Linked DNA regions of Homo sapiens: regions 2 and 3 are each linked to region 1. The links come from fine-mapping of genetic effects on gene expression. A gene starts in region 1. Each other region holds a variant in brackets. All regions are shown on one strand. Distances are between the middles of the regions. Region 1 holds the start of U2SURP (U2 snRNP associated SURP domain containing). Region 2 has its middle 50 kb from the start of CHST2. Region 3 overlaps PAQR9 (progestin and adipoQ receptor family member 9).

What was found. PIP is the estimated chance that this variant, and not a neighbour inherited with it, causes the effect.
Region 2: its variant is the best candidate, but not a certain one, in a credible set for the expression of U2SURP in whole blood (INTERVAL, PIP 0.72).
Region 3: its variant is the best candidate, but not a certain one, in a credible set for the expression of U2SURP in whole blood (TOPMed, PIP 0.75).

Annotation. Positions count from the first base shown.
Region 1 is chr3:142,996,569-143,007,388 of GRCh38, reverse strand. It overlaps U2SURP (U2 snRNP associated SURP domain containing), which reads right to left and starts at 5,819. Exons shown (of 28, transcript NM_001080415.2): 1 at 5,716-5,819. The coding sequence starts at 5,760. It overlaps PAQR9-AS1 (PAQR9 antisense RNA 1), which reads right to left. Exons shown (of 5, transcript NR_125393.1): 4 at 8,895-8,989; 5 at 6,299-6,362. It overlaps LOC100289361 (a long non-coding RNA gene), which reads left to right and starts at 5,922. Exons shown (of 1, transcript NR_034032.1): 1 at 5,922-6,544. RefSeq lists enhancers at 5,458-6,107, 5,382-6,381, 7,381-8,381.
Region 2 is chr3:143,064,037-143,074,856 of GRCh38, reverse strand. No RefSeq gene overlaps it. Among named protein-coding and RNA genes, the nearest start is that of CHST2, 50 kb to the left of the region's middle. RefSeq lists enhancers at 283-1,064, 1,847-2,629 and a silencer at 2,284-2,482. The variant A/G (reference allele first, on the strand shown) is at 4,022.
Region 3 is chr3:142,946,598-142,957,417 of GRCh38, reverse strand. It overlaps PAQR9 (progestin and adipoQ receptor family member 9), which reads left to right. Exons shown (of 1, transcript NM_198504.4): 1 at 1-2,833. Among named protein-coding and RNA genes, the nearest start is that of PAQR9, 12 kb to the left of the region's middle. The variant G/A (reference allele first, on the strand shown) is at 6,204.

The DNA of each region.
Region 1 (10,820 bases):
CTACTAGGGAGGCTGAGGTGGGACGACTGCTCGAGGCCAGGAGTTCAAGACCAGCCTGGGCAACATAGCAAGAACCCCTGTCTCTGGAAAAAAAAAAAAAGAAAAGAAAAGAAAAATACAAAAGGAAGAAGTGAAAAGGCAGACTAAGGGAAGTTTGACACAATAAAGTAGCATACACAAGAGAAATTTATTTTAAGGCAGAGAAAGCAGACAGTAGAAATGTGGGGAGGGACAGCAAGAAAATCCAAAAGGAAAAAAGATCATTCTGATGGCTGCTAAAGGGATAAAAGTGAAGCCAACTACACTACCTGTTGCCCTATAGCTTGCTGGCTGAGAACAAAACTAGTTTTCTTCTGGCTGCTCCAATTTTACTTTAAGTGAAAACCCCACATCTGAGTTTCCAAATTACCAAGCTATCCACAGCAACATTCCTCCAACACTACCATTCTGCCTAGTGAGCTCTCCATTCGTGTATCTGTCTCCTAATCTCCCACGTTTCTCCTCTCACCCTCTAAGAGAAGCAACTTTCATCTCCACAAGTTTAACAATCTCTCCTATAGGAAGCATAACACCACCTTAATTGCATTGTGCTGACTCTCTTCTACTAGACAGCATGCTCCTCAAAGATGGGTACATTCTTTTTTTTGAGACGGAGTTTCGCTCTTTTTGCCCAGGCTGGAGTGCAATGGCATGATCTCGGCTCTCGGCAACCTCCGCCTCCCAGGTTCAAGCGATTCTCCTGCCTCAGCCTCCCGAGTAGCATGTGCCACCATGCCCAGCTAATTTTGTATTTTCAGCAGAGATGGGGTTTCTCCATATTGGTCAGGCTGGTCTTGAACTCCCGACCTCAGGTGATCCACCCGCCTTGGCCTCCCAAAGTGCTGGGATTACAGGCGGGAGGCACTGTGCCCGGCCGCTAAAAATGGGTACATTCTTATTTAACATTTTCTAACTCAACATCAAGCACAAGATCTGGCAAGCGACAGAGTCTCAATATACTTGACTTGTCAGAACAAGTGCCTACCACCAAACAAAATTACACTCCACACTATCAACATACTATGCTGTCCACTCATTAACAACAGCTACCTAGCTTAATACCACTATCCAAGCCAAATCAAGGTATCCATCTTTAAAAAACATTCACAAAATCATTAATACAAGCACTATATAAATAAAGTTAAATAACAAACCTAAGATGATTTTTTAAATTATTCAAAACACTACCAATACTATATGAAAAGTTGTAAGTACACTCTGAATAACCTATAGTTTATCTAAACTGAGGAAGGGCCTTGTGAAAAAACTTAACTCAAGGAATATATGTCTAACACTACCGTTAGCCTCAAGTGCTACTGACAAATGTATCTTGCTTTCAAAAACGTTATTTCAGCAAAATATCCAGCTCACAGCTGATGTGCAATAAAATGTTAAAACCACCTATACTAGAATGAGGCAAATAGTTTGTAATATTACTATTTTTGATTTTAATATCTTGTAGCAAGTTTTTCTTTTTATTCCAAAAATGATGGCTCCTTGAAAAAAAGGGTGGAGGGTAGAGGGGTAGATACTTCAACCGGCATACTAAATGAGCTCTTCTCTCAATGATACCCAGTAAGGCAAATGGGTATCTTTCTTAGGTTTACTTTCCAAGGAAAACAAAGCTTCAGAAATAAAAAACAAAAAGTGAAAATAAAAACTGGACTTTCAGAAAACAATTCAATCCAGAAAGATAGGAATTATTTTTAAAACCATACCAACAGGCATATTCTAGCACCCGTGCTGCAGGTTCAAGTTTCGAAAAAGTTATCAATCGAGAAAATGGAAGGAAGTTCAGTTCTACCTTCCAGACCAAAACAAAACCTTCTACCAAAAAAACTACCTTACATTTTAAGATAAGGTTACAACCATAAACCATAATAAAGATTCAGTTTAAAATTGGCAAACTGTTTGAAAGCCTGATTTTCAAGGTTTGTATTTTGTTTGGACTTTTTCATAAACTTTCAGGTACCACAAAAAATGAAAACTGGCAGTAATAAATACCTAAGGTTCACAAGCCTTGAACAGGTCCTCAGTTTACTTATTTCTTAAAAGTGATACTTTTTGTTAATCAGCAAAGGCAGTCAATCAAAACAGTTCCCAAAGCAATTCAGCACTGGATGTCCAAGGAAGCCTGTAGTATTTTGTTTTATCCATTCACCTAACTCAATTTTTGGCGATACGGCAAAAAAGAAAAAAAAAAAAAAAGCCATAGTCACAGAGTGAAATAGCAGGGCACACAATTACATTACATTAGCAATATTACCAGCACAGGAGATGGCAGAAGGAAAGAAAATACTACATTTTCTTCATATCCTAATTTTGCTGAGTAAGCAAACAATTGACAGTCAAAAACAGTAATTTTTTTATAAATTAAATTCTAAGGAAATATGCTTAACAATTTTATAAGTAAACAATTACAGGCTCTCTCTCTCTCCTCTCAAAATGAAAGCTACTACATAACATCAACACCCCTCCCCAACCAAGCAATATTTTAGACTAGTGATAAACAAACAAATGCACAGGAAAATTTTAGCTCATTTCTAGAACATTTGTTAAATGTCTACATCTGCCAGGCTCTAAAATGCAAAGCACAACAAAATTACACAGAAAATTAAAGTGCACAGGGGTCTCTTCATTAGGGACAATTATGAATAAAGGTAAGTCATTCAAGTACATACACATACATAAAGTATCATTTTAAAACTAGAAGCCAGGCACGGTGGCTCACGCCTATAATCCCCGCACTTTGGGAGGCCGAGGCGGGGGGGGGGGGTCACAAGGTCAAGAGGCCAACAGATGAAACCCCATCTCTACTAAAAATACAAAAATTGGCCAGGCGCCTGTAGTCCCAGCTACTCGGGAGGCTGAGGCAGAAGAATTGCTTGAACCCAGGAGGCAGAGGTTGCAGTGAGCTGAGATTGCACCACTGCACTCCAGCCTGGGCGACAAGGCAAGACTCCCTCTCAAAAAAAAAAAAAAAAAAAAAAAAAAAACACCCCAACTAGAAGACCTGTAGAGGTTATCTAATTTAATCTTTTTATAATTAAGAAATGTTAATAATTTTGCCATATTGTACATTTAAAATTAACATTTTCCCAATGTCTAGAAATATAATAAGCATCCCTATCCATATTAACGGGAATGTAACTACCAAAGAAAACGACGAATCATGAAACAGAAGTATCTGTTCACTCCATCTGTATTGTAAAATATAAGCCACTCATCTGTTCTTTCCAGAGGAAAGGAAATCAAACCAGATATCAAAGGCTAGAAATTCTAAATACTGTAGTATTAGCCAAAATGATCTTACAATTTCTCTAATAAATTATGTGTTAGAAATAAAAAGCAGGGAAGCAGGGCGGGGCACGGTGGCTCACGCCTGTAATCCCATCACTTTGGGAGGCTGAGGCGGGTGGATCACGAGGTCAAGAGATCGAGACCATCCTGGCCAACATGGTGAAACCCCGTCTCTACTAAAATACAAAAAATTAGCCGGGCGTACTGGCGGGCGCCTGTAGTCCCAGCTACTAGGGAGGCTGAGGCAGGAGAATCACTTGAACCCGGGAGGCGGAGGTTGCAATGAGCCGAGATTGTGCCACTGCACTCCAGCACTCCAGCCTGGGCGACAGAGCGAAACTCTTTCACAAAAAAAAAAAAAAAAAAAAAAAAGAAATAAAATAAATAAAAAGCAGCTATCTGGGCAGTCATTATGACAGCTGATGACTTAGATTCCAAATCACAGGATTAAAATTTATCCTGACATTTTGAAAGCTAAGAACTTTTGATTTCCTCTAAAAACAAAAAGAGGGGAAAGAAATTAAGATTTATTATGTACTTCATAGACATTATCTCATTTGATCCTTATATCAACCATGTAAAAAAAGAATTATATCTACATTACAAATGAGGGAATTGAGGCTCCAGAGTTTAAGCAATCTGCCTTATTATCGCAAATATAATTAATTACCAAGTCAGGATTTGAACCCAAATCTCTTGTTAACAAAATTCATAATCTTCCCACTACATTATGCAGCCTCCAAATTAGTTAAGATATTCTGATTCCTTTCACAGACATCAGTAAGAAATCTGCTAATAGCATCAAGAGATTATAATCTAAGGCAATATAAACAGAAAAGATTACTGGATAATCCAATAATTTATTTATTGAGAACAGCCATACATTCAGTCATGAGAAGCACTATTTTAGAAGGAAGCCTGAACACAGACATTGAAATGTTTTCAATGTATCCAAGACCTCAAGTAGGGAATACTTAAAATATTACTTTGAGAAGAAACAAAAATTGTGAGGCTTATGCACGACTTGTTATGAACGTAGCTAGCTTTAGTAATAGCTCCCTAACGGTATGTTCTTGTCAGGAGTCTGTTGAGAAGAGTTGGTAGAGCTCGCCCCCAAAGAGAGGGAGACGAGAAAATGTACTGAGGAGGGGGAAAAAAAACTGACACAATACCTTGTAAAGAAGCCGAAACTGGCCCCTCACCAAAGTTTCTATGTAACTAAACGATGTCTGTTAAGACCATTACTAATTATGAATTAATTATTTTGGTGTACATCGTTCACCAAATGGCATAAACAGTCGGATTAGAGAAAGCAAGTAGAAAACGAGTTATGATGTTTCTCAGAACTGTAAACGCAAGCTTCTCTCCTACCGTAAATTTAACTTTCTAATAGCCGATTTACAGTCACACACTCTTTAAGATTTAACAGTCCCTAGCACCTGAAAGTGTTACACAGCTTCTTGCATCAGCATCGGAAAGTTTAACTACCTCGTGGCAGTACCAATTACTTTTAATATATTCGAGACCAGAAACCCAAACCAAAAAACGATTAAATGTCCCGCCCAAGATGGCAACTAAGAACCCAACCGTACTAATGCTTAACTACTACCACAGCTCACTGGTTTCACAATACGTGCCCAGGGTTCCCTGTAAACACAAATGCAATTTACTAATCGTATGTAGCTTACAAGTCTACGGAGCTTCTCTTTTCACTGTTTCTTCAACATAAAGAAAGAGACCACGAGTCCTCTACCCTCAAAAGTGCTTTTTACTTCCCGTTAAGGTAAAGACCACGTGTAGACTGTACATTAACCTTGGCTATGCAGCACTGCAAAGGAGAGCTGCTCCCGCCTCTGCATTTCCCACTCCGTGTCTTTGCCCTAGTGGTCCTCCCCTCACAGCTGGCGACCCTAGAGGTTATTCATTCCTTGGAGGGAAACTGAGGGAGGCCGGAAGTGAGTGAGATCCAAAACCGAGAAAAAAGCAGCAGACATTTAAGCACCGGGAAGCGATTCCCGCCTCTCTCCCAGGCGCTGTCTGGCGGCCTCAGGGCGCAGGAAGCTGAGATACAGGAGAGCGTTTTCACTGCTTCAGACCTCAATCTGAATTCCTGATTTCACTCCAATGCCAAGCGCGGGCCGAAGCACTCACGCCTCCACCCACTGGGCACGCCAGTCTCGAGCTGAATCCCGGCTGGGACTATGGGGAGATACCAGGCCTCTCAACCTGCGCACAACGGTGCGGCGGCGCCCGGGCCTACCGTCGCGACTAGAATGCAGACCCCAATCCCAATCGCCTCTCACAGGCCAGAAGCGTCTGTGGGCCCCAAACGACAGTGGTAGATCCGCTGACTTACGAAATTTTGTCAGAAATTACCTTTGAACTGGCCTTCTGAGATCCGCCTGGCGTTTTGTCCGCCATCTTGAGCTTTGCCCCTCCTTCGGCGGCGGCAGCAGCACGGGCGAGTCGAGCACCGAAAGAGCGGATCTCAGTGAAGCCCGCCAGAGGCGCCTGCAAGGCTGAATAGTCGACTGTCGAGATAGCGACCTTAGGGGCAGCCGCTCACGTGACTTCCGGTGTCAGTAATTTCCTCAGCCGCGCTCACTCCGCTAGTTTTCCTGGGAGTCACGGTGCTTGGTCGCGTTATTGGGTCCGGGAATTCAGAGAATCAGGGCCAGCTGATACTTCACCCTCTTATCCCAACGCCAACCCTTGATAGATGCGAACCAGTCGTATTTCCTTTGTGGGAAAGGAGTCGCTTTTTAAAGACGTGCACTGGCCATCTAGGGAGGAGCTTTTACTTCAACTCAAAATAGGACTGGAGCTGACTGGTGACCTGGCGCTCGATGGACGGAAACGCTGTTCTTGCCGCTTCGGCAGCTCCCATACTGGTGGGAGAGGCAAACTTGCAGTCTGCTCATCTTAAGATGGTGAATGTTGAGATAGGGTTGCTCCCGAAAAGCCGAGAAGAGGAGCCGTTTGACCCAACTTGAGGGTGATCCGATAGACACTCTTTAGGGCGTCTGCAGAGTGGGTGCGCGTGGAGACAGTCAATAAGAGAAAATCGTAAATACAGATGGTATTCTAAATCTAGCATGCATGTAAAGTTGTGTGACATTTTAAAGATTACATTTTACACTTTAGTATTGTTTTCATTTTTAATCACATAAATGGGGGAACACCATATTAAACTTTTCTGAACTTAGTACTTTTTTAAAAAGTTCTTAATCAGGGCCTAGATTCAAAGACGGAAAGCTTGCTTGAGAAGGCCATGCCCGAATCAGGCCAGGCAAGGAAAGAAAGGACATTCCAGACAGAGGGAGTAATTGAGGTAAAAGCCTGTGGCATGAATCAGTACAGCCGATCGTGCAGGTCACCTAAAGCAGTCGTTTTATTAGACCAGGTGTGGGGAGGGACGTGGTTGGACAGGGGTGCGGGTGCAGGTTCACACAGCGCCCTGAGGTCACCATCGTGCTTAGGAGTTAGAATTCTGTTCTCAGAATGAAGATCGGCCTTTAACAAGGTTGAAATGGTCAGATTTTTATTTTAAAGTATTGCTCTGAGGACTAGGGTGGGAGTGGAGGGCGTTTGTGGACCTCTCCCTAAATCATTTATTCAAAATATTTTTGAGCCCCGTTTTGTGTGTAAAAGCCTGCCCAAAGTGTTGTAGGGCTTACAGAGACAGACAAACATGCACTGTCTTCATATGATTTAAAACTTAATGAGAAATGGAGGAGACAAGGAAACCGCAAACTGACACTATGCATAATTAAATTGATGCTGCAAGGAAGGATCAATAGCTGAGGGACCTCTGAAAGAAGTAATTAATTCTGAGAGTAGGAGTGAGGAAAAGAGACGGGGCGGGGCAGGGGGGGGGGTGGTCATAGAGAAGAAAGCATTTGAACCAGCTCTGAAGAAGTAGAATTTTGTTGAATGGCGGGGGTGGGGAGCGAGGGAAGCACTTAGAACAGGATCTGACACAAGGCTGGCTCTCAAGAAAGATTAACAGACATATATGCCAGCCACTAAGGAATCAGCAGGCCAGGCCTCCTATTCTCTGTGAGGGTATGAGGGTAGAAGAACAGACAGTAAACAAGAAATGATCTGAAAGTGACAAGTGCTACACATGAAATTAGAATGACTTGCACCCTCCAACCCAATTCAATTTACTTCTACTGCTGGATTCTGTCATACTTTTTCAGTTCTGGGCCTCTTCCCTCAACCTTGCCCTGCCCTCTCATTGAAGTCTAATCCAATTCTACTCTGGGTGAAGATGTCCCTTCCTCCAGGAAGGCTTACAGTCCTCCCTCCCCACCAATCCTAAATCAGAGACCCTTCTGTTTCCAAGGAACCTATACTTTACCACTTTGAAGAGCTCAGCACACTAGATCTTAACAGGGTTTTGTTTTGTTTTGTTTGTTTTGAGACGTCTCGCTCTGTCGCCTAGGCTGGAGTGCAGTGGCGTGATCTCGGCTCACTGCAAGCTCCGCCTCCTGGGTTCATGCCATTCTCCTGCCACAGCCTCCCGAGTAGCTGGGACTATAGGCGCCCGCCACCACGCTCGGGTAATTTTTTGTATTTTCAGTAGAGACGGGGTTTCACCATGTTAATCAGGATGGTCTCCATCTCCTGACCTCGTGATCCACCCACCTCGGCCTCCCAAAGTGCTGGGATTACAGGCGTGAGCCACCGCGCCCAGCCTAGATCTTAACTGTTTATAGGATTAGAAAGTGAAATCATCAGCTGAGATGAAGAGGAGAAGTGGGACTGGGTATGCCTTGTGGTGTTCTGACAATGCCACAGGCTGATTTTGTCACTAGAAAGTGAATATGTGTAGCTTTTCAGTCAAATCCCCAAAGTCCTACTTATTTTAAAAATAATTTTTACTAAATACTCCTGAAGAGTCAAAAACAAAAGAATGCAGACTTCTTTCCTCTCTTCTTTTTTATATTGTAAGCCCCAAAGCAAGTCAGACAAATATGATGTGACTAGAAATAATACGGGCCTTTATTAAGGGTTAAGTACGCTTTTAAAAATTCAAAATCATTGCCAGGCACAGTGGCTCAGGCTTGTACTCCTAGCACTTTGGGAGGCCAAGGCGGGCAGATCAAGGCAGGCAGATGGCTTGAACCCATGAGTTCGAGACCAGCCTGGGCAACATGGCAAAACCTTATTTCTACAAAAAAATATTTAAAAATCAGCCAGATGTGGTGGCATGCATCTGTAGTCCCAGATAGGAGGCTGAAGTGGGAGGACCACCAGAGCACTGGGAATCTTGCCATTGCACTCCAGTCTGGGCAACAGAGTGACCCTATCTCAGGAAAAAAAAAAAAAAATTGAACATCACAATTATGAGTAAGAATTCTTGATACGTGAAATTCTGGCCCTATTACGTCATGAAATTCTGGCCCTATTACTCAAATTACAAATTCAGGAAAGTGAAATAGCATGAAAATAATCCAAATGGAATTTTATGGAATCTGAATAATTAGATTAGTGCTAAGGGACTACACATAAACAGTAAGAATCATGCAATTTACTGCAACTAGTATTACCTTTTTACAATTACAGTAAAACCATGCCATTTTTCTCTTCCCGATGTGTTGATTTTCTGGTGCCCACACCTGCCATTTGTTTTTAAGGCTTCTCCCTGCAGCAGATACGTTCAAGAGAAATTACAAAGTAGTGCCATATACAATACTGAGATGTTTTGTTTGGTTCATTCAGGGAGATTTTTTCTTTGAAATTTGAGCTAGCATTTTAAAACAGAGAGATTTTACATAAAACTCAGGGTTTCTAGCCTTTCTTGAAAAATGGGGAAGTCTGGCAACACTGGGGGACAATCCAGGTGAGGTGGCCTGCAGCGACTTCTAGGGAAGGGGGCTATGAACACCAGTTTAGCCACCAACTCATCATACACGGTGGACAAATTCCCCATACCCAGCCTGCTTGTAGGCATTTCAGTTTTCTACTTCTGATGTACAGTGTAATACTTACCTGGGGTGATGATCAAAACATTACCAACCAGTTCCCCCAGGCACCAGCCAGAACTGACTTGTTAGTAAGGTACAGGAGACTCAGTGCCTAGGGCTCACAATAATTTTTAGACCTCCCCACCAAAAATGTTTTGATTTCTTTAAGGAGGAAAAAAGTGGAGTGGAGAAAGTATTTAACAATACAAACAGCTGTGGAACCTGTGCATGCTGAAAGATAGAGACCTTAAAAAATGATTGCCCCAAAGCTACAGCCTCCTGTATTGTGCCAATGGACTGCTCCTACTTGGTGGCATTTTCATTCTAGACAGTTTTTAAACAGTTTTTCCCTGCTCTCTGGGTTTCAGGATATAGGCTGGTAAAAGGAACACTCCATTTGCTTCTTTGGCATTTATTGAGTTTCTAGCTTGTGCTAGGCTCTGAAGAAAGAAGATAAAAGGAGAGACAACTAAAAATCAGACTTAATGTCTTCTGCTAAGACAGATCCTAGCTGCTTCTAGGAATAATTAGGAAACAGCCTTCACGGAGGTGTGGTCAGTGTGGAATGGAAAATTCCTTCTGCTGCACTTGACTGCCTGCCCCACACCCACCCCACAACGTAAGTGTTATGAATAAGGTTTTAGTAGCAACAGCAGCTGCTCCCCCTTTCTCACACACACAAAAATTACCTGACTCACTTATTGATTATATACAGATTCCTTTGACAATAATAATTAGCAGTGGCAGCCAGGCGCAGTGGCTCACGCCTGTAATCCTAGCACTTTGGGAGGCCAAGGCAGGTGGATTGCCTGAGCTCAGGAATTTGAGACCAGCGTGGGCAACATGGTGAAACCCCTTCTCTACTAAAATACAAAAGAAATTAGCTGGGCATGGCAGCGTGCACCTGTAGTCCCAGCTACTCAGGAGGCTGAGGCAGGAGAAATGCTTGAACCCAGGAGGCAGAGGTTGCAGTGAGCTGAGATCACACCACTGCACTCCAGCCTGGGCAACAAAGCGAGACTCCGTCTCTACAAAAAATAATAATAATAATAATAATAATAATAATTAGCAGTGGCATTTTTTTAAAAATGATGTCAAAAAGTATATAGCCCAAGAATACACTGGTGCCATGTTGAAAATAATAGAAATTGCCATTTTAACTATGATCCTAGTGAGAAGGAAACCTTTACTGTGTAGGAATTATTTTATCAACAAGGTTAATAAAATCTAGGAGAGTCCAGATGGCGTACTGTGGAAATGGAAATGAGCGTTCCTGAGTGTGTGTGTGTGTGTGTGTGTGTGTGAGTGTGATAAAGGAGGACTCAAGGTTCCTGTGGCAGGTCATGAGAACCAGCACACGGCAAATCTGGGGAGCTCTCTCTTGCCATGGCCAGGCAACCCAAAGGTGGGCTTGACTTGGACCACCAAAGATAAGGCCTCACTTAACTTGTGACCTGGCTTTGGCCAGTGCGAAGCGTACATATCCCCATATTTACTGAAACTCACGAG
Region 2 (10,820 bases), 67 kb before region 1:
GCCCCTCCTTGACTCTACAACTTCTGCCCCTCAAGAAAGGGGCATTGGTATGAGAGTTTTAGAGGAAATGTTAAATGGCTGTTAAAGTTGTAAAATGTTCCTACTCTTTGATGCAGCAATTTCACTCCAAGAGATTTATTCTTCAGTGGATAGATTCCCCGAGGAGCTCTCCCAGTGCTCAAAGCCTATTCACTCTTACGGTGCTTGTAATAAGAAAAAATAAAAATAACAACAGCTTAAATGTCTCTCAATAGTAATTAAAGAATGAGGCAGATTTATAGGTAATGATCAGGAAGTATACCCAAGATCTCATAAGTATCAAAGGCAAGTTGAAAACGTTGAGGCGGGTGGGCATGCGTGTATGAGTACATGAACAGAAAAACAATTCAGGAAACTTGAACAAAAAATTGTTAGCCATCGCCACTGGGAATTTTCACTTTACAGTTTATGCACTCTACATTTTAAATATTTTTTTTTTTTTTTAATTGATCATTCTTGGGTGTTTCTCTCAGAGGGGGATTTGGCAGGGTCATAGGACAATAGTGGAGGGAAGGTCAGCAGATAAACAAGTGAACAAAGGTCTCTGGTTTTCCTAGGCAGAGGACACTGCGGCCTTCCGCAGTGTTTGGGTCCCTGGGTACTTGAGATTAGGGAGTGGTGATGACTCTTAACGAGCATGCTGCCTTCAAGCATCTGTTTAACAAAGCACATCTTACACCGCCCTTAATCCATTTAACCCTGAGTTGACACAGCACATGTTTCGGAGAGCACAGGGTTGGGGGTAAGGTCATAGATCAACAGCATCCCAAGGCAGAAGAATTTTTCTTAGTACAGAACAAAATGAAGTCTCCCATGTCTACTTCTTTCTACACAGACACAGCAACAATCTGATTTCTCTATCTTTTCCCCACCTTTCCCCCTTTTCTATTCCACAAAACCACCATCGTCATCATGGCCTGTTCTCAATGAGCTGTTGGGTACACCTCCCAGACGGGGTGGTGGCCGGGCAGAGGGGCTCCTCACTTCCCAGAAGGGGCAGCCGGGCAGAGGCGCCCCTCACCTCCCGGACGGGGTGGCGGCCAGGCGGAGGCGCCCCCACCTCCCTCCCGGATGGGGCGGCTGGCCGGGCGGGGGCTGCATTTTAAACATTCTTATTACCTCATATTATTTCTGAGTATGTGTAGAATTGAAAAATACTTCAGACCTTAACCAAAGCTGTTTTCCTTCAGAAACGTGGACCACCAGTGAGGGCTGCCCTAAACCCCTGCCCTGTTCCTCCAGCCCTTTCCCTCTTACACCATCATGGTCTCATCCCTGCCATTTTCCACCCCCACTGCCGCGAAGCCTCTCACGAAGCTTGATCTAAGCCTGACTGCAGATGAATTTGTTGCATCTAAAATATGTTGTTCTCCCCAGAAATCGGTTCCTATGAAAACCTAATTTAAAAACAGAAAGGAGGAGAAACATTTATGAATCTTTTAGATCTATGATCTTTTAGATCTATTGCCTTATTAATTTTTTCACTCTGAGGTAACAGATGTATTCTTACTTTTACATTTGGACTTTGGATATGGACTGGGATGCCCACCTGACACCTCAAAGGCAAAGGGTTCCATCGGAGACTCCAAGCCTATCTTTATCTTGACTAAACAGCGGCTTAACACAGAGGCTTATTCTCCACTGAACTAGGCCCAGTGTGTATGTTCCTCAGCGGTATTTTTAAATTCTACACATACTTAATAATATAAGAGATAATAAGAATGTTAAAAATTTAGAGTGTATAAACTGTAAAGTGAAAATTTCCAGTTATGAATGACTAGCCTTTTGCTTGGTCATCCAGGGCCCCAGGCGCCCCCATTTTTTGGCTCTGCTTCCCCTCTGGGTCCTCAGCACAGAGAAAAGGAAAGACATGGAGGACAAGGGAGGTTTTGTGGGCCAGGCCTGAAAAAGAGGTCCCATTTCTCTGGCCAGACTGGGAACAGTGGTGTAGTAGACAAAATAAGGGCTCTCAAAAATGTCCATGTCCTCATCCCTATGTGAACCTGTGAGCATGTTGCCTTAAGTACCAAAGAGACTTTGCAGGAGTGATTAAGGTCAGAGTATTTGTCAGACCTCTGAGCCCAAGCTAAGCCATCATATCCCCTGTGACCTGCACGTATACATCCAGATGGCCTGAAGCAAGTGAAGAATCACAAAAGAAGTGAAAATGGCCAGTTCCTGCCTTAACTGATGACATTCCACCATTGTGATTTGTTTCTGCCCCACCTTAACTGAGCGATTAACCTTGTGAAATTCCTTCCCCTGGCTCAGAAGCTCCCTGACTGAGCACCTTGTGACCCTGGGCCCTGCCCTCCGGAGAACAACTCCCTTTGACTGTAATTTTCCACTACCTACCCAAATCCTATAAAACGGCCCCACCCCTAATCTCCCTTCGCTGACTCTTTTCGGACTCAGCCCGCCTGCACCCAGGTGATTAAAAAGCTTTATTGCTCATACAAAGTCTGTTTGGTGGTCTCTTCACACGAACGCGCGTGACAGTCTTAATATGAGATGATACTGGGTTATACAGGTGGGCAAAGAGGGCCAAACAAAACAAAACAGAACAAATCAAAAACAAGGAAACATGAAGATAGAAACAGGTTGGAGTGACTGTCCTTGAAAGCAGAAGTAGCTACACTCCAGGGAATGCAAGTGGCCTCTTGAAGGTGGAAACGGCAAAGAAAAGGATTCTCTCCTGAAGCCCCCATGAGAAAGCGGCCCTGCCAGCACTGTCAGACTTCTGACCTCCAGAACTGTAAGAAAACAAATGTATGTTGTTTCAAGCCATTAAGTTTGTGGTTGTTATAGCAGCCATAGGACAAGTGGTCCAGCCACATGCCAAGGAGGAAAAGACAACAGAATTTGGTAACTAACAGCAGCCTTTTCCTCCATGGATGAATCAATCCCATCCTTTCTGCTGCAGCCAGCTCTGTCACTTTCATGCTGGGATATTACTACCATTCTACCATATTACTACCTACGGCCTTTTACCTGGCCTAGCTTTGGCGGCCCTCACGCTGGTTTCACCTCACACCAACGTCTTCCCCAGTCTGCACCAGAGTGGTTCTCCTAAATTATATGCCAGACCACGTCACTCCTTTGCTTAAAAGCTCCTGTGGCTCTTACAGAAGAAAGTCCAAAATTCTCAGCCTGGCATTCCAAGTCCTCTGTAATGTGGCTCCTGTCTGCCTCTCCGTCCTTACCCCTCAAGCATCATCTCTCCCGTGAGGGTGAAATGCTAGGGTGATAAGCGGAGTAGACGCCAGCAGATGGGGGTCAAAGGGGCTTGGGTGGGTGCTAGCAGTCCCAGCCAGGGCTTCTATCCTTCCTCCCACTCAGCTTCACCTCAGGTGCCACCTCCTGTCAAGAGAGAGAAAGCCAGGGAAAGGCTTCCAGATGTGAGAAAGGATTTGAGAAAAGTTGCCTCATATACCAATAAATACAATCCAAAGGAGCTTGTTCAAAGTCTAAATCATTAAAAGTACAAGCCCAAACAAATTGTTATTGATTCCCTTGGTTACCAAATTCCTTAGCATGCCAGGCTGGACAGTCATCCCCAGCAAGCTGCATTTGTTGATTTTCTTGGTGTGAAAATGAATCCACAGTACTCCCCAGTGGGGAAATGCCTGGGATGTCCAAGAGAGAGACTAAGGAACTTTCAGAGATTCCAAGCCCTGCTCCTAGCTGATGAGTTGGTGAGCATAACAAAGACATGCGCTCAGGCAAAACTGCAGGGAAGGCAGGAGAGTCATGTCCACTGTCACACCCACCGGCCTTTCTCAGCCCAGCGCTTCCTCCTCCAGTCCCAATACTCCCCAGGTATTGCCCCAAACTTTGGACTGTGACTTATACTCTGTGCCTCCTCCTTTCCTAAGCCCTGTTCTTTCTAAATGACAAAGGACAGCAAGTCAGTTAATCATGTAATATTAGACTTACAGAATCTTAAAATGCAGGTTTTAAGTAATTTTTGCAAAAATTGTGG[A/G]AAAGGACAGAGTGTAGGGAGTAATCATCTGTAAAGTCTACTAACCTACTACTATCATTTTGATATATTCCATCTTAAACTTTATTCGTATGCATATTTTAACATATCATAAATACAATTGTGCAACAGCTGCATAGTCCTCCCAGGCATCATTTAATGGCCTCATAATATTCCTTCCAGTAAATTCTTAGCAGTCTTACAAACTGCTCCCGATTTTTGGATGTTAGAGCTATGTCTAATGTTTTACAATTTGCAAATAAGCCCTGATGCATGCCTCTTTTTCTATATTTTAAAAATTGTTTTCTGCCAGGTGTGGTGGCTCACGCCTATAATCCTAGCACTTTGGGAGGCTGAGGTGAGAGGATTGCTTGAGCCCAGTAGTTCAAGACCAGCCTGGGCAACATAGGGAGACCCTGTCTCTACAAACAAACAAACAAAACAAATACAAAAATTAGCCGGGCATGATGGTACATGTCTGTAGTTCCAGTTACTCAGGATGCTGAGGTGGGAGAATCATCTCAGCCAGGGGAGGTCGAGGCTGCAGTGAACTGTGTGTGCCACTGCACTCCAGCCTGGGCAAGAGTGTGAGACCCTGTCTCAAAAAAAAAAAAAAAAAAAAAATTTCCTTAGACCAGATTTCTAAAAGTAGAATTTCTGGGTCAAAGTGTATGAAAATATTTAAAGCATAATACATTTGGTCAAATTGCATTTAAAACATTGTACAAATTTAAAGCACAATGCACAAAGGAAAAGAATATATCATTGAAGTATTTTTTTATTTCATATTAGTGTTTAACAATCATTTCAAATATATGTTTGCTACTTTAATTAGCAAGAGGAAAAAACAAAAGTGTTTTGGAGTTGGAAGGAACCTCAGATGCCTAGCAGTTCCCAAACGTGGCTGCACATCAGAATTACCTGAAGAGTCTTTAAATAATATGAGTTCCCGAAAGCTCCTTGGAGAAATGGTTGTTTTAGGTGTGGAGTAAAAAATGTACAAGATGAGGCTGGAGAATTTGTCATTTCAGAAAACAAGCTATGAAAGAGTAATGTCATGTGTCAAAGGGACTTCAGGAGCCAACTTGAAGAGGCTCTCATTGGCCAAAGAGGGGAATTCTAAGGATAAAAATTGTGATGGATTGCCGGACGCGGTAGCTCACACCTGTAATCCCAGTACTTTGGGAGGCCAAGGTGGGTGGATCACCTGAGGTTGGGAGTTCAAGACCAGCCTGACTGACACGGAGAAACCCCGTCTCTACTAAAAATACAAAATTAGCCAGGCATGGTGGCACATGCCTGTAATCCCAACTGTTCAAGAGCCTGAGGCAGCAGAATCGCTTGAACTCGGGAGGCGGAGGTTGCAGTGAGCCAAGATTGCACCACTGCCTTCCAGCCTGGGCAACAAAAGAGAAACTCCGTCTCAAAAAAAAAAAAAAAAAATTGTGATGGATAAAGCACATCAGTATAAAATCCATGAGGTTGTAATAATACTAAAAATAATAATAAAACTTTAGTGGTCACTTTAGAGAATGGTAATAATATCCCAGCATGAAAGTGACATTGAAAACTGGAAAATAAAGGAAAAAATCAAGCATTGAGGCTGCCTTTCTTATATGAACTGTACTGTGGAGTAAGTCAATAGTAGGTGAGGAAGTTTCTCTATATTATCTCAAGTTATAAGTGAAAAAGAAATGATAAATTTAGGAATCACCAGTTGTGACCCTAATGAATTGGAGAACTCAGGCAATGATGATCAATGGCTGCAAATGTCACAAAGAGACACAAGCAGACATTATGTGGCCCTGAAAGAAGTGCTTTCATCTATGAAGTAGACGTGCCACAATTTTTGAACTAAATCTGATCAAACCTCTAGATTAAATTACTGATCTACAGAAAATAAACTTGGGGAGGCGGGCGGTGGTTGTGGTGTTCAGCAGAATCCAGACTGTGGGAAAGTCTCGTGGACAAACCACCAAGTCTCTGTAACAAGTTTAAAGGGGAAAAAATGAAACTGAGGGACATCAATAGCTTAAAAGTCACTTAAGAGATATATTAACTAATCATAATGCATGAACTTCATTTGAAAGACTTCAAGCAAACTGAAAACAAAAACAAAAACAAACAAAAAAACCTTGTAAGACAATTGTAGATTTCAGAATATCAGGATTTTTCATGATATTAAGTAGCCACTAAAGTCCATGTCTTATACAGAAACATACAAAAATATGTACAATTAAAATTATGTATGGAATTTTAGTACAAATTAAAGTGGCTGTGCATGTCATGTTATACTAGTCTTTCTACTTTTGTATATGTTTGAATTTTCCATAATTAAAAGAAAATATATATACATCAGGTCCTAGGCCCTGACCTGCTGAACCAGAATCTCAGAGGTAGGGACTGGCAGTCTGAGTTCTGAGAGCCCCCCATAACATTCTGATGTAGCTGGTCGGTGGACTGGTGTCTGGGAAACAGTGATTTGACTCAAGGAAACTCAGGTACAAGGACAGTAAATTGCCCAAGCTCCTACAGCCAGTTCATGCAAGAAGCCAAGTTGCCTGACTCTGATCCAGGGTCGTTCTCGAGATAATAGGCTGCCTTTTGAATGCAAATGCATTAGTGCCTGAATGTATTCCTGTTGGGTAACATGATGCTTTGACCCAGTTTAAACGCATGTGTCCAGAAAATGCCCTGGAAGTTGTCTAGGATCTTTCATCACCCTTGAAATCATAGGCGCATGGGGCTACCTGATCCATGAAGACCTCAATGTCTACTGCGGAAAGGGAGGGAGCCTTTTAGCTGCACCTGCACATGGGAATGCAAACTTAAAACTTCCAAACGAGATTATACATGGAGGCCACAAACCTTCCCCAGGTGTCCTCCAAACTTCAGAGTCCAGATATCACACCAGAAGGTAATAGGAACATTCAGAAAAGAGGATGAAGATAGGAAGAATTTTGCTAAGAACAGAACATGAGAATGTCGGAGGTGAGGGGTAACCTGTGAGTCTGGGCTTCTCGTGATAACTGGCATGACCTGGGATGAAGGACTGGGTTATCCTTGGTCAAATGTAGGAAAATGACATAGGAGAGGTTGTGAGAAGCTGAGAGAAGGGAAAGGAGAGGAGGGAGGGCTAGGTGTCTGTGGTTTTCTCATGACCAGTTTTTAATTAGTGAAGGTCTCTCTTCTTGACCTTTGGTGACGGAGTAGAGGCTTAAGGGAGGTTCACTCCTAACCTGACCCTTGTTGGGAAAGGGGCAAACCCCCATCAAAAGCCCCGGCTCCTCCTTGGCCCAGAAGGTAGGAGGTGTCTCATCACCCATGATGATGGGAGTGGGAAGCTTAGGAGAAGTATGATTCACAAGATAAGATTTAGAGGACAAGAACATTAAGGTCCAGTTTCGGATTAACTTCCAGTGCAGGAGGATCCCACAGCATTCCAGCTCAAGAGTCACAGGGGAGGAGAAGTTTCCCCATGACCATATGCCAGCAAACAAACACTAACCTGGCAAAATTACACATAAAAACTGAAAACAGCTGAAGATACGCAAAGACTTACATTTAAGTTTATATTATACAATTTCTTTTCTAAAAATAGCATAGAGACTTATTTAAAAAACTCAGTTACAATAGATTCATACTGGGAGTCTTCGGCCTTCTATCTTGGTTGTCAAAAGCAATCTATGATCTAGGGACAAGGCTGCCACACAGTATGGCATAAGAGGCAGGTGGGATTGCTTTAGACTCACAAATTTCTTCAGATGACTAGACCAGTTACTTCAGTCATCTTTATAGCCTGCCAAAATTTCCCTGTTTTATAGATCCCAGAAATATTCCCAGCTGGGAGCAAGTAATTGCATCCAATTTGAATTACTTTTTAAAATGACATGTCATAAATTCCCAGTGCTGGCAAAGGTGCAGCAAAGCACCCATTCCCCAACATTAGAAGAAGTCAAAAATAGTCCATTTTTGGAAGGCAAGTTGGCAACATGCATCACATGAGCTTTGAAATGTTTATATTCTTTGACCCAACAATTCCAATAATTTTTAAATGAATGAAAACAAAAATGTTATGCAAAGTGATGTTCATCACGGCATTACTTAGAAAAGAAAAAAATAGAAACAACCCAATTTCTAACAACAGGGTCTTGGCAAAGTAACCTACAGTAAATGATCATTTGTAGTCATTAAAGTTACATTTTGTAAAAGTTTATAACACAAAAGGCTAGGTCCATCAAGTGCCGCCTTCCTAGAACTGGAACCTCCAGCAGATGGATAGAGAGGCTGAAGGTTGAAGCCTGGCCAGACTGCCCCCATCTGTGATTCTGGCTTCCTTGTCCTGCCACTGTCTCCTGTCCTGCTGATTCCTACATCTGGCCTTCCAGATGCACTGTCAATTCTCTGAGCCTCCATAGGCTTCCACTGAACTCTTTTCCTGATTTAGCTACAGATGGTCTCTGTTGTTTGTACCAAAAGACCCTGACACACCTAACCAACCCATTAATTACATCATCAGACTCTGAAAAACAAAGCTGCCCAATCCCAGTTCTAAAGTGTTTTCGAAAGTATGTTTGTGGAACCTTAGACCTCTGAGTTGAGTTACGTTTGGAAAATACGTAATGTCTCCCGCCTGGGTATACACAGTACATACTCAAGGTTCTGAGAAGCACTGCTATAAAAAAGCCAATTTAGCCCAGGATTTCCCAATTTAGTTTATCACACAACTCCTTTTTCCAAGTAACATCTATTAACACTCTACAGTGCAGTAGGTAGTTGTGCCAGTGACTACAGAAGCATTCTTTAATGCTTTAACGCTTCTGTAGTCAACACAATTTATAATTTCCTCCTATACCAGCCTAAGAGCAACAGGAGTGCTATGTCCTGATCATCTACTGGTTTGATTTCTGTATAACAGCACTGAAGTGAAGCTAATCTTAAGGTGAATACAACCTCTGTTGCAGGGAAAGGAATCACAAGATCCAAGGAAATGAGGAGTTAAATTATTTATTAGAGAGCTGCTATGTGCTTGGGGCATGCTAGATACTGTATTTATATAATCCCATTTAATCTTCCCAGCCAAGAACCTCCTAACTCATTTCCCTGTTTCTCTTGTCCTTCTCCCATTCTGTCTCTGCACAGCAGCTGAAGTGTCTTTTGAAACTACATCAGGTCACTCACTCCCTTGCTTAAACCTGTCAAGCCCTACCTAACCTCATCTCATACCACACCATCCTTTCCTCACTGCACTTGAACTCCACTGACTGCTTTCCATTTCTCAACACGCCAACATGGTCTCCCTCTAAACATTCTAACTTCCAGCACCTTCGGCCTGGAACACTTGGTGCTCTATCTTCACACAGCCAGCTCTACCTTCTTACTCAACCTCACCACCAGTGTTTCTCCTTGACTACCCTATCTAAGAAAGGTACCCCTCCCTCACTTTCTATCCTACTACCCTGTTTTTCAGTACATTTTACCATCTGAAATTATCTTGTTCAAATTTTTGTCTGATTCCTCCCATTTGTATGTAAGTCCCAAGACATAAGGACCTTGTCTGTTCTATTCATCACTGTATTTCCCCAGTGCCTGTGCATAGTAGATGCTCAACTTGTTGAAGAATCCTGTAAAATAGATGGCATGCTCACGCTGCAAATGAGGAAATGGGCTCAAAAGGCCTTGGTTAAACATCGTGACTGAGACCACACAGCTGGGAAGTGATTGCCTTGCAATGGTTGAAGGCTGAAGGGAGTCTTTGGATCTCTGGAGTCCAGGTATTTTGTTCTATGGTTGGGCAAGTCCCGCTGGGCCACGCAAAACAAAAAGCCAGGTTTTCAAAGAGGCACTCTGCTTTTGTGAACTTTGTCTTTTCAAGCTCTGTATGAGCTCATCTAGATTCATTAAAGATGATCAAGGTCCAAAATTAATCTACGGAAATCACATTCCACAAAAAATAACCGAAGAACTCAAAGATCCTGAGGTTTGGCAACTAGATTTATTTACATATAAGATTATGAAAGTAATTATATCTAATATTTCATCTCTTTGCCCCAGTCTTTCTTTTTGCATTGGGCAGTGTTTCAGTCAAACGTAAGAATCTGTACAAATTTAACAGAGAGAAAATACCACCTTACCCAAGACCAGGCAGCTGATCACGTTTACCTTGTCTCCAACACTCTGCAAGGAAAGAACTAAACGTTGCAGAGAAAGTGGAGAATAAATGCATTGCAAGGCAATCAGAAGAGGCAAGTAGGCCAGGGCAAGTCCTCTATTTTCTTCAAAAGTTTATTACATCCTCCTCTATTTTCATCAAAACGGTCTGTTTCACCAGAGGTAAACCATGTTCCATACAGTCATAAGTCATAAGCTTTGCAAGGCCCTCAAGGGTCCTTGGATGTCCAGTGGGTGCTATGCAAGGACATATCAAGTGGGTGCTATGCAAGGACTCTTGACAAAGGGCCCAAGTGTGGAATAAAGAAGGGTATGTATGAGTACACTTGGGCACTAAAATAGCTTGAAGGCTTTTTCCCTATAATCTAAGTTATATATGGACATGTGAGATACAAGGAAAGCTACGAAGTGGTGATTGTGTAGCTAATATTTTGAATTTCACTATGGCACTTGAAGAGAATCACTCACTGGGAGGACAATATCAGTATATATGCTGATTGTTCACCATGAAGAATATTTTAAGATAAACTATTCTAGAAATACACTAAACTCACCTAGACAGTTGAGTTCTGCAACTTATGAATGGCATTATAGGCTCTGAAATATACAGTGGACAGTAATTCTTTACCTT
Region 3 (10,820 bases), 50 kb after region 1:
GGTAAAAAAGATAGGAAGAATGCATGGGAAGGGGAGAACAAAGAGGATTAGAGTCAAACAGTCAGAATGGGGCAGCAAGTTCAACTGTGCAGTCAGCCTGAGTTTTAAATTTTGTCCTTAGAAAAGCATGTGAACTCCCAGGGTGTTAGTGTTCGAGTAGACAGGCAAGGAATTCTGTTTGTCAGCTTAACCACATCTTGTAGCGTTTGACCTGAGCACGAGTGTCCAGGTATATTTTGAGTGGTACATTTATCTCCTGGCTTAAAGCCCTTACTTTGTTTCCATAAAATTAGGACAGAGGCAAAAAGGCATTACGGGATAGCACCAGCCAATTGTACATCACCTTTTGAATCATTTTCTTGAAGGATTGTCAATATTCTCTGACATATATCACCTGACAAAAAGCGAACAAGCCTAGACAAACTGAAAAAGGAAGCATTCAGTGGTTGGAGCTGAGCACTACTGTGTTCTTTTGTGAGAGGCCACACGTTTTCTTATTGAAGATTTGGCTTCTTCGGTATTGTGAATAATTATTTCTTAATTGTGAAAATGGATGTCAGTTCTTCTTAGTCACTCTTCCAAAAGCTAATATAAATTTCTGTTGTTGTCATTTAAAAAAGGATAACTGTATTGCATTTCTGGTTTGCAGATTTCTAACCAGTTTGTAGGCATTTTTGTTCTAGAGTGGCTCCTTAAGAATCTGTGAGCAAGTTGCAGAATTAGAGTGTTTATTTATAGGTCAGGGGCCAAGAATGCTCATTTAGCTGTTAATTGTGGCAGGATGTGACTTTTGAAAGCTCTGAACATATACCTATATGCAACAGTATGCACACTTATTTACTATTTAGCTCAGTGGAAAAACAGCCTGCTCTTTGAGCTTTTGAGAATGTTTCCCAATGTATTGTGCTTCTAAATGTAATGCACTTGCTTTAATGCTTTTGTTCTCAATCAATCTCTGGAAGCTATTCCAAACATGGCATTTCTCAAGGAAAATTTCTTGAATGTGCAAAATTATTCTCCAATGTGTAAAAGTGACAGGCCACCTTTCCCTCATGCCTTATACCTCCACCCAAAATACGCAATAAGCACTCAAGGCAGAATGGGGGGTCTTCAGGTGGTCATTTGGCCGTGCTGTAAAGATGGCCCTGCTTCTCCCAGTACACCATGATATTGAAGAAGGACACTGTGTAAATAAACTCTTGTTTCTAGATAAAGCATGGGGACACAATTTCATTTCTTCTTAGTTCCATCTCTAGTTGGAAAGCATAATCTGTTTTTAATATGCTGGATGCAAAAAATAAAATTCCTGGGAAAATTTTTTAAAAAAGTATTTTAATTTTATATTTGTAAAGTTTCTAATAGACATTTGTTTGTAAAAACAGGCCTTAGCACATAAGTGAGAACCAGAGCTTTTTGGAAAGACTCATCTTTATCCGGTGAGTTTAATCACCTTGAGCTCTTACTCAAATGATAAAGACCTAGTAGGTCTTTAAAAATGTAAATAATGTATAGTTTAAAGAAGGATACAAATCATTTTTTAAAAAAGAAGAAAACACATGAGATAGGTTTTAGGTGTGTCTCATGGCTAAATTTAAAAGTCTTTTTAAAAATTCTGGTTAGAAACTTTATTAAATTCCCTCTTCCAGCAAAACCTAGCACAGAAGGTCTACTTTTCAAACAGGCTAGTTTTCTTTTCTGGAGGCTATGAACAAAATTATTCTCGCCAATCAACTGAGTACCAAGGCAATAAAGAGGTGAGGCACCTTTCACTTTGATGAGTTTATAAGCATGGTGAATAACGTAGCCAATAAAATGTACAGCCCTGGAACTCTGTCCCTTGTTTCTTCAGAATAGAAAGAAGAATAAGCCCCATGCCATCACTATATGGACCAGAAAAAGGCTTTCTGTGTTTCAGGGCTGGGGGAGGATTCTGTGGCTGCTTTTTTTTTTTTTTTTTTTTTTTTTTTTTTTTTTTAATTTGTATAGACCATGTGGTCGCTCTGAACTCTCTTCATTTCAGCCATCTCCCAGGCCATTTTCACTACCCTTGAAACTTCACTTTCCACATATCCAGCTTGAAGAGAAAAGATTTCTAAAAGGATTCCATGTGTATTTAGGCCTTCTCCAACCATCTGCCTTATGAGGTTCACCCATTTCCAAACAAAGGTTTTAAATACGGTGACTGTTCTTGGATTTGCAAGAATGTACAACCAGCAGGTCCCCTTTTGCAGTAAAGGGCATTATACTTGAAGGGGCATACTCATTTTTTCCTCAGGTCAGAGGCAGAGGGAAGAGTTAACAGTGATCAAATAGAGACCTTCATGTGTCTGTTTTTTGTTTTTGTTTTTAAGTTCATTTAAGGGTGATGACGGAGAAAGAAGGGAGTAAAAATGATGCGCGCACAAAGAAATTTTTCCCATTGCTTGCCAGATTCATTCTTTTTAGGCTACCCTTACTCCAGTCCTTACCTACACCCTAAAGAACTGTATTTAGCTAGCAAGAGAGGCATTCTCAGGATACGTGAGCTTCCAGGCATGGACTAACATGTGGTTTCAAATCAATAGTGTATTCTAACAGAAAAGCGTTACTTAATCTTAATTCTCCATTATGTGATAAAATAATCTATAGAAATAGGTATCACTTTGGCCAGTTCTGTGCATGTAGCTGAAAAAAAAATGTGACACATTTCTGTTGTATGATTTGCTATGATTTTGGTTTCCTGAGACATTTGTTCCCTACAGTCTTGAATATGAAATTCTGTGTAAATAATATGACTATGCATTTTTGCTGAAAAACAAATGTATGAAATAAGAATAAATTATTTGTAAGCACAGTGTTTAGGATCGTACACATCTGTGCATGTCCAACAGTTATCTTTCAGCAACAGGGTATTCCTAAATTAACAGTAAAATATTCATAACACTAATAAACAAGATAAGAAAAAACATTACCCTTTTCATAAAATGCAGCAGGCAGAAGGCAAGAGTATAAGTTTATCCTGAAGCACCCTTAGTATATTACTTTTTTATCATATTAGATAAATTAAAAAGAAAATTCATGTGTTACTTTGAAGCCATATCTTGTAAGAAAATACTTATATAACCCAGGTTATGAAATGTTTTCTTCCACCTTTCTGTTTTTCAAAAGCATATAGAGTCCATGGGCTTCTGTGTAACACATCTTGTCCCAGAACCTTGGTGATGTGTGTGAACTTACAGTATCTCTGTCCTAAATAACCCCAGCAAGGGAGATCCAACTTCAACTCTTAAACTTTGTGGTGATGGCTAAGTCTTTAAATCATGTTAATTATTGTTTCAGAGGTTTTTGGTTATCAGGAACAGAAAACTCTCATGAAGGAAGAAAAGGTTTGTAGGAGGAACACTGGGGAGTGCACATAGCTGACCACCCAGGCCTCAGGAAGGAAGGGAGCAGGGCAGTGCTAGAGATTCTGGTGAGAAACCCCTGCCTCTCCAGGGCTCTGCCACCAGATAAACTAGCTTCAGGGCACTGCCACCAGATGAGCCATGGTCAGCTTTTTCCTGGCTTTGTTGTGTCTGTCCCCAATTCAAATTCCTGGAAAAGAGTATCAGATTGGCCTACCTGAGGTCACATGGACTCCTCTAGAGACAAGGTATGGGTGCCTGTGATTTGAGCCCTTTCCAGAACCGCATGGAGGGTGGAGGTTAGTTCCCACAGGAAGGGATGATGGGCAGACAAAAACAACAGCTGTCCACTTCATCCAACCCATTGGCTGTCTGGTCCACAGGCATTCCACTATAATCCACACTCCTGAAGAGTGTGTGGACAAAGATCATGGGAGACTGGCGGTTTGAGCCATGTGCACTGTGTAAAGTGCTTTCCAAGCCAAGTGTCTTACCAGTGTGGGGTCCCTGTTAAAGCTCCGGAGCATGTGGAGGAGGGAAGAAAACCATGCTAACAGCCCAAAACAATAGCAACCACAGCCCAGCCCCTAGCTGGCTAGCACACACTCTCCTTTTTTATATACGCTTTCCTTAATGTAATACAACTTTTATTTGTACCATCGAAGCACTCTTGTCCCCTTTCCCAAAGACAACCCAAAGCTGCCTTCACTTAGAACAGCAGCAAACTTCCAGCACTCAGGTTCTCCATGTGAATGAAGGGAATTCCCTTCATTCAGGTCAGGATGTGACTAAATAAGACATTCAGCCACCCCCAACTCACTGTAGAAAGGTGGAGAATTGGCTAGCTGAGAGGCAAACTCCCACCCCGAACAGCATACCATTTCTAATGGCGTACTGTGCCACCAGTATACGGCAGCCATCACCCCCTGTGGCCTAGGATGGCCAAGGCCTCCACAAGCTGGTAGTGGAATGAGTTCTTCAGGTTCTGTGTGCTGGGAAGATCTCTGTCTACCTTGCTCCAGGGCCACTCCTAAGAGGGCTGCTCCATTTGGGCTGTCTCGTATCTCTTGAGCCTGTGCCAAATATCTGCTTGTTTGCTTTTAGATTCACGTTCCCATACTTCCCTTCATCTGCTCTGTATTGGAGCTGATTCTCAGCTCTCTTGCCCTCTGGCTTTTTGTTAGGTTCTGCCAAGGGGACAAATCACGGAAGATTGGATTGGAACAAAAAGCAGCAGAAGGCAGGTAAGTTTTCCTGTCCCTCCCCACTCTTCTTGTTTTTTCCTGGAATCCTCAGCCCTGGCTGCTACTAACAGTCACAGTGTAATCCTGAGGGAAGACAAGATAAGAAGAAAGCCAGAACATAGAGTGGGGCCAAACAAAGTAACTCACAAAGGAAGCCTTGATCAAACTGTGCTTGAGGCCCACCTCTACACCTTTGGACTTTTCCATGTGAGCCAATACATTTCCTTCATTTTACAATTGAGTTTAAGTTATATTTATGCCTTGTAATCAGAAGTATCTTAACAGATCCATAAAATTTGCTAACTTCTCAGCCATGTATAACAGGATTTGCACAGCTCCCATCCCACCATGACTGAGCCAGTCCCACGTTTTAGAATCTACCTATTAGATATTTGTGATACTTCATTTTTTAAGTACAGATATGCTGTATTAGGATTCAAAGCTACCCAGTGACCCCGAAGTGATGCCTGAACTGCTCTCTCCCATTCTTTATTGCAGATATTTTAAATATCTGACCCTACCACTCCCACCCTCTCCTCAACTCTGATCTTACCACTTCCCACCTTTTCAAGAACCACACTCTATCCATTACACATTGTTCTCCTGTATGTTCATCAACTACTTCTACTCAATAGGATTCCTCCTACAAGAATTTAAAAATGTACTACTAGTCTCTCCCACCTTCTAAAATGAGAAAGTCACCCTCTCCCCACTATGTCACACTCTAACAACACCCCCCCCCCTTCTTTTTCACAGCCAGGCTTTTTTGAAAGAGTAGTGCACACCGCCTTTGTTTTCGTACCTCCCACTCACTCCTTTACCCACTGCATTCTGGCTTCATTAAGCTCACTAGAATGATTCTTCTAAGATTTCCATCAGCCTCCTTGTTGATGGATAGACTTTTCTGAGATCCTCTTTCCCATTCTGTTCTCTTTGAAACACTCTTCCTTTGGCCTGTGTGACTTTTGTACTACTCTTTTACAGTCTCCTCTGCTGACTTTCATGCCTGACATCAATTTTCTCAAAGAGTGAAGATAGAGCATCTATACCGGTATAGCTGAAGGACTTTGGTCAGTGGCTTCCTGGTTCTGCCACTTTCTGTCAGCTTTCCTGCTCAATTTAGAGACATTCTAATTCTTGTTCAGAAAACCTTGAGTCCACTCCTGTAATTCTTCTAGTGAGTTTGTAAGCCAACCAATGCCTACTAATAAATCCCCTTTAGCACCAACTAGCTTCAGTAGATTCTGTTGTCTGCAATTGACCCCAAACTGATATATCAGGTAAGCAGAAAAGGATGGTGATCAGGAATGCTCTTTATTCCCCAAATCAATCATTGGCAAGTAGTCTACTGGGCCTTGAATTTTTTATCTTTAATTTTCCTTGGCAAAACAAAGCAGGTTCTGAATCAGACAGCTACTTCAGAGAGTTTGATTCTATTTCAAAGCAAAAAAAGAAACACTAGGAAAATAATTACCTAGGAATTTTTTTCCATAATGTTTACTTAAAATGGGTAAAGGGAGACACAATATGGATACTTAGAATATATGTCAAATGAAAAAGTCTCAAATAAATCCAG[G/A]CTTGGTTCAGTGGTTCATGCCTGTAATCCCAGCACTTTGGGAGGCCAAGCAGGCGGGTCACTTGAGGCTAGGAGTTTGACACCAGCCTGGGCAACATAGCAAGACCCCATCTTTATAGAAAATTAAAAAATAAAAATAACTAAAATAAAATAAATCCTATGAACAATAAGTGCTATTCTCATGTATCAATGTCATCTATATAATGTTCATATATAAATTCAACCCCTAATAACCAAAAATTCACTAAAGAGTATTCAGAATTCTAACACTGGGTGAGAATCCTGTAAGTCTTTGATCTAAAATATTAACTGTGGTCCTCCATTCCAGTGGGGAATGGCCAGAGTGAGTCAGGATCTCAGCACTGCTTGGTTTCCTCTTTCCCTGGACAAAGGTATTTATCCCTGTAATGCATCCCTCTGCTTCTGCTAGCAGTGCCCTGAATTTCCTTTGAGGAATAATCCTTCCTACTGAAGCTTGGTGGGACTGCAATCCAAGGTAGCCCTGCAAGCCCAGAGTTTCTCTCAATTCTTTATTCTCCATGACTTGCCTGCACAGGTCTTCATATAATTCTCTGAGTTACCCCATAGCCTTTCAATACATTATTTCTTTATTTTTTGTTCCTTTTTCCCACCTTAAGCTCATCAGAAGGTTCCCATTTCCTGTAATGAAAGAATATTGACTGAGGACTTAAGAGTTTCCAGTATGGGATGTAAGGAGCTTAGAAGTTGTCACTCCATCTTAACAAGTAAAAAGCTGAACTGAAAAATCAACAACTCTTCTTGGGTCCATCAGAGACATGAAGTCACAGAGCAAACTGCTGCCCCCCAAAATTGGAGAGACATAACAGGTAGACACAGAGAATCACAATTTAACAGAGCAGGAACCCACAAGAAGAAATTTCTGCAAGAACCAGTACCAAGTTCTTTTGTTCCCTGTACATCATGACTAGTTTCCAACAAAAAATTACAAGGCTTACCAAAAGACAAAAAACACAGTTTGAAGAAACAGAGCAAGCATGAGAACAGGCTCAGATATGACAGGGATGTTGGAATTATCAGGTTGGGAATTTAAAATAATTATGCTAAAGGTTCTAATGGAAAAATAAACAATATGCAAGAACCAACAGATAACGTACAAAGAGATGAAAGTTCTGAGAAAAAAATCAAGCATAAATGCTAGAAATCAAGAACATTGTGACATGAAGAATGCTTTGATGGGCTCATTACTAGGCTAGACCCTGCTGAGTAAAGAATCAGCTTGAGGCTATGTCACTAGAAACTTCTAAAACTGAAAAACAAAGAAAAAAAGACTAGAAAAAAATCAGAAGAGAATATTCAAGAACCGTGGGGCAATTACAAAAGGTGTAACCTACACTTAATGGGAATACAAAAAGAAGAAAGGGAGAGGGGAACAGAAGGATCAAATAAACACCCACTCAAACTCTGCAGCTTGAAAGGAAATGATATTCCACATAGAGACAAGACTTTTGAATTACTTTCTCTCTTCCCTTTCTCAGAAGTCCACTATCAGTTTCTGACCTCCAAAAACTTTTTTCTTAAGAGCTGAAAAAATTCCTAAAAGAAATGGAAGATGGAAGATTTAAGGAAACTGATTAACTTTGCAATTTATAAATAAATTTTAAGCCATAGGATTAATAAGAGGTTTCACATCCTGCCTGCTCCCATAATGTCCATTCTCTCTATCTTGATACTTTGCAGTTGTAAAAATATATGTGGAAAACTGAAAGGTGGGCAGAAGTGAACATTTATTAGTACAAAATGTAATTCTCTAAGAGCTACTTTACTACTTCAGGATGACCTGAGTGAAGCTAATGGCCTAGTTTTTACTCCAGCTCTTATTAATTCAGTGATTGACTGCATTAGTTCATCCCTACCTCACTGTCTATCTGTTTTGAGGGTAGGATCTATAAATATCAGTTTAGAGTTCTCTCAGATTCTTACTTTAGTTACACAGAAATGTCATAAAGTACAAAAGGAAACAGGTTTAAGGAAATAAATAATTCTACAGATACAGGTAATAAGCCAACTATAAGAAGATCGTGTCCCAGTTCTCGCCTGTTGTTATCTTTATTTTGGTTTGATTTTTTTGTTTTGATTTGATTTTTTTACTTTTGATGTTGGTGTTTTCTTTTTGCCAAGCTCCTAGAGAAAGCATCAAATATAAAAGCTAGCAGATGTGAAATCCTGCCAGAAGCCCCTCACTTTGATTTCTGGTGTTACCTATGTCTTGCCAAATGTAAAGCTTGTTAATATACAGGTGCCAGTTTGTCACATAAACACGTGAGGGGATCCAGGGCCAGTGGTATAAATCATGGTGCCTCGCCATGAAACCTGGCTACAATGAACTTAAAGAGAACAGCTTAAAAGGAAAAGCTGGCCGGGCGTGGAGGCTCACGCCTGTAATCCCAGCACTTTGGGAGACCCAGGCAGGCGGATCACCTGATGTCGGGAGTTCAAGACCAGCCTGACCAACATGGAGAAACCCCGTCTCTACTAAAAATACAAAAATATTAGCCAGGCATGTGGCGCATGCCTGTAATCTCAGCTACTCGGGAGGCTGAGGCAGGAGAATCGCTTGAACCCGGGAGGTGGAGGTTGCAGTGAGCCAAGATCGTGCCATTGCACTCTAGCCTGGGCAACAAGAGCGAAACTCAGTCTCAAAAAAAAAAAAAAAAGGAAAAGCTCGGGGGTGGGGGGGTTCTTGGCATTAGGTGGCAACTCTACCACTTTCTCTCCATTCAACTGTTTGACAAAGTCATTTTAGTCCCCAGGCCATCATTTGCGCTATTGTGGCAGGGGAACTGTCCTAGAAGGATGAGTCACAGCCACACTGAGTCAGACTCAAGTATGGCGAAGATGAGGTTCTCCCCTTGTTCTTGGGCATAACAAAATGGGTCTTGTCATACGAATACCAGAGTATCTTTTAAAAAAAACAAACATTTTTCTCCTGGTCCTCGCTGTCCAGTCCCGTAGCTGGTTTTGACAGACATCTGCCAAGCTTCAGTGTCACTTGGCTGCCACTAAAATCACTGGTGATTATTCACAATCTCCCTTAAGAAATCTCTAACAGGAAACAGGTGCCATCCTGAAAAATGGGACGGTGTGTCTGGAACAGCTGCCCAGGTGTTCGGAGCATCTTAGGGTCCAGCCTGGTCCTTGTGTCTTGGTGCACTGTCCCCACTGTCCTTGCGGTGGACATGGAGTTGGATGACTGCCCAGGCAGGCAACCTTGTGGAGGGGCAGTCTGAAGTTCCTTAACAGTAGGGAGGAAAAAGCGGGACTTCCAAGGTAGGGATGGGGGATTCTGACATTCCAGTGGTCACACACACACACACACACACACACACACACACAACTCAGAAACACCCTGGTCACCGTGAGACGATCTCCAAGCTGTAAGGGTTCCCAGAAAGGACCGTTGGAGAACCATGGGAGAGCTGAGGGGAACTGGGCACAGGCTGTCAGGAGTGGGGACAGGCAGGAAAATGGCTCGGGCTGGACTCCCGCAGGCCGATGCAGGCTCAGATATGCTGCCTGCGGGATGTCGTGCTTTCCAGGCGCGGGAGGCGTGGCAGGGGCCGGGGCGCCTGTCGGGCGAGGCAGCATCTCCTGGGGCAGTCCCTGAGCTCCTCGGTCGCGGGCAGGTAGATCCGACACAGCTGGGCGCAGGCGGCGGGGTCGGCCTGGGAGTCGGCTTGGGTCTCAGGGAGAGCGCGGGGAGGCCAGCATGGCAGGGCGCTGCGGCCTCGGAAGGGGAGCCAGGCAGGCGCCGAGAGGACACGAACTCGAGGCCTCCAGCGGCGCAGAGGAGAGGGAGTAGGCGCCGGGCTGGGCACGCCAAGGTGCTCTAAGTTCCCGCCTGCCCCTTCCTCCTCCTGTGGCTTCTTGTGTCTTGCATGGGCGGATCTGGAGTGGGTTCGACTTCTCGCGCCGTTATTTCATCCTCTTATCACCTTAGGCAACCTACTCTGCCTCTCATCTTCCATTTCCTCATCTGTAAAATAGAGCGGGAAGTATTTCTTACTTCATAGTGGTATTGTCAGAAGCGTTTGAACCAGAGCAACTCCATCTTGAATAGAGGAGGCTGGGCGAAATAAGGCTGAGACCTACCAGGCTGCATTCCCGGGAGGTTAGCCATTCTAAGTCACAGGATGAGACAGGAGGTCGGCACAGGATACAGGTCATAAAGAATTTGCTGATAAAACGGGTTGTAGTAAACAAGCCAGCTAAAACCCACCAAAACCAAGGTGGCAAAGGGAGTGACCTCTGGTCGTCCTCACTGCTACACTTCCACCAGTGCCATGACAGTTTACAAATGCCATGGCAACGTCAGGAAGTTACCCTATGTGGTCTAAAAAAGGGAGGCATGAATAACGCCCCCCCCCCCACGTTTAGCATACAATCAATAAATAACCATAAAAATGGGCAACCAGCAGCCCTTAGGGCTGCTCTGCCTATGGAGTAGCCATTCTTTTATTCTTCTACTTTCTTAATAAACTTGCTTTCACTTTACTGTATGGACTTGCCCTGAATTCTTTCTTGTATGAGATTCAAGAACCCTCTCTTGGGGTCTGGATCTGGACCCCTTTCCATTCA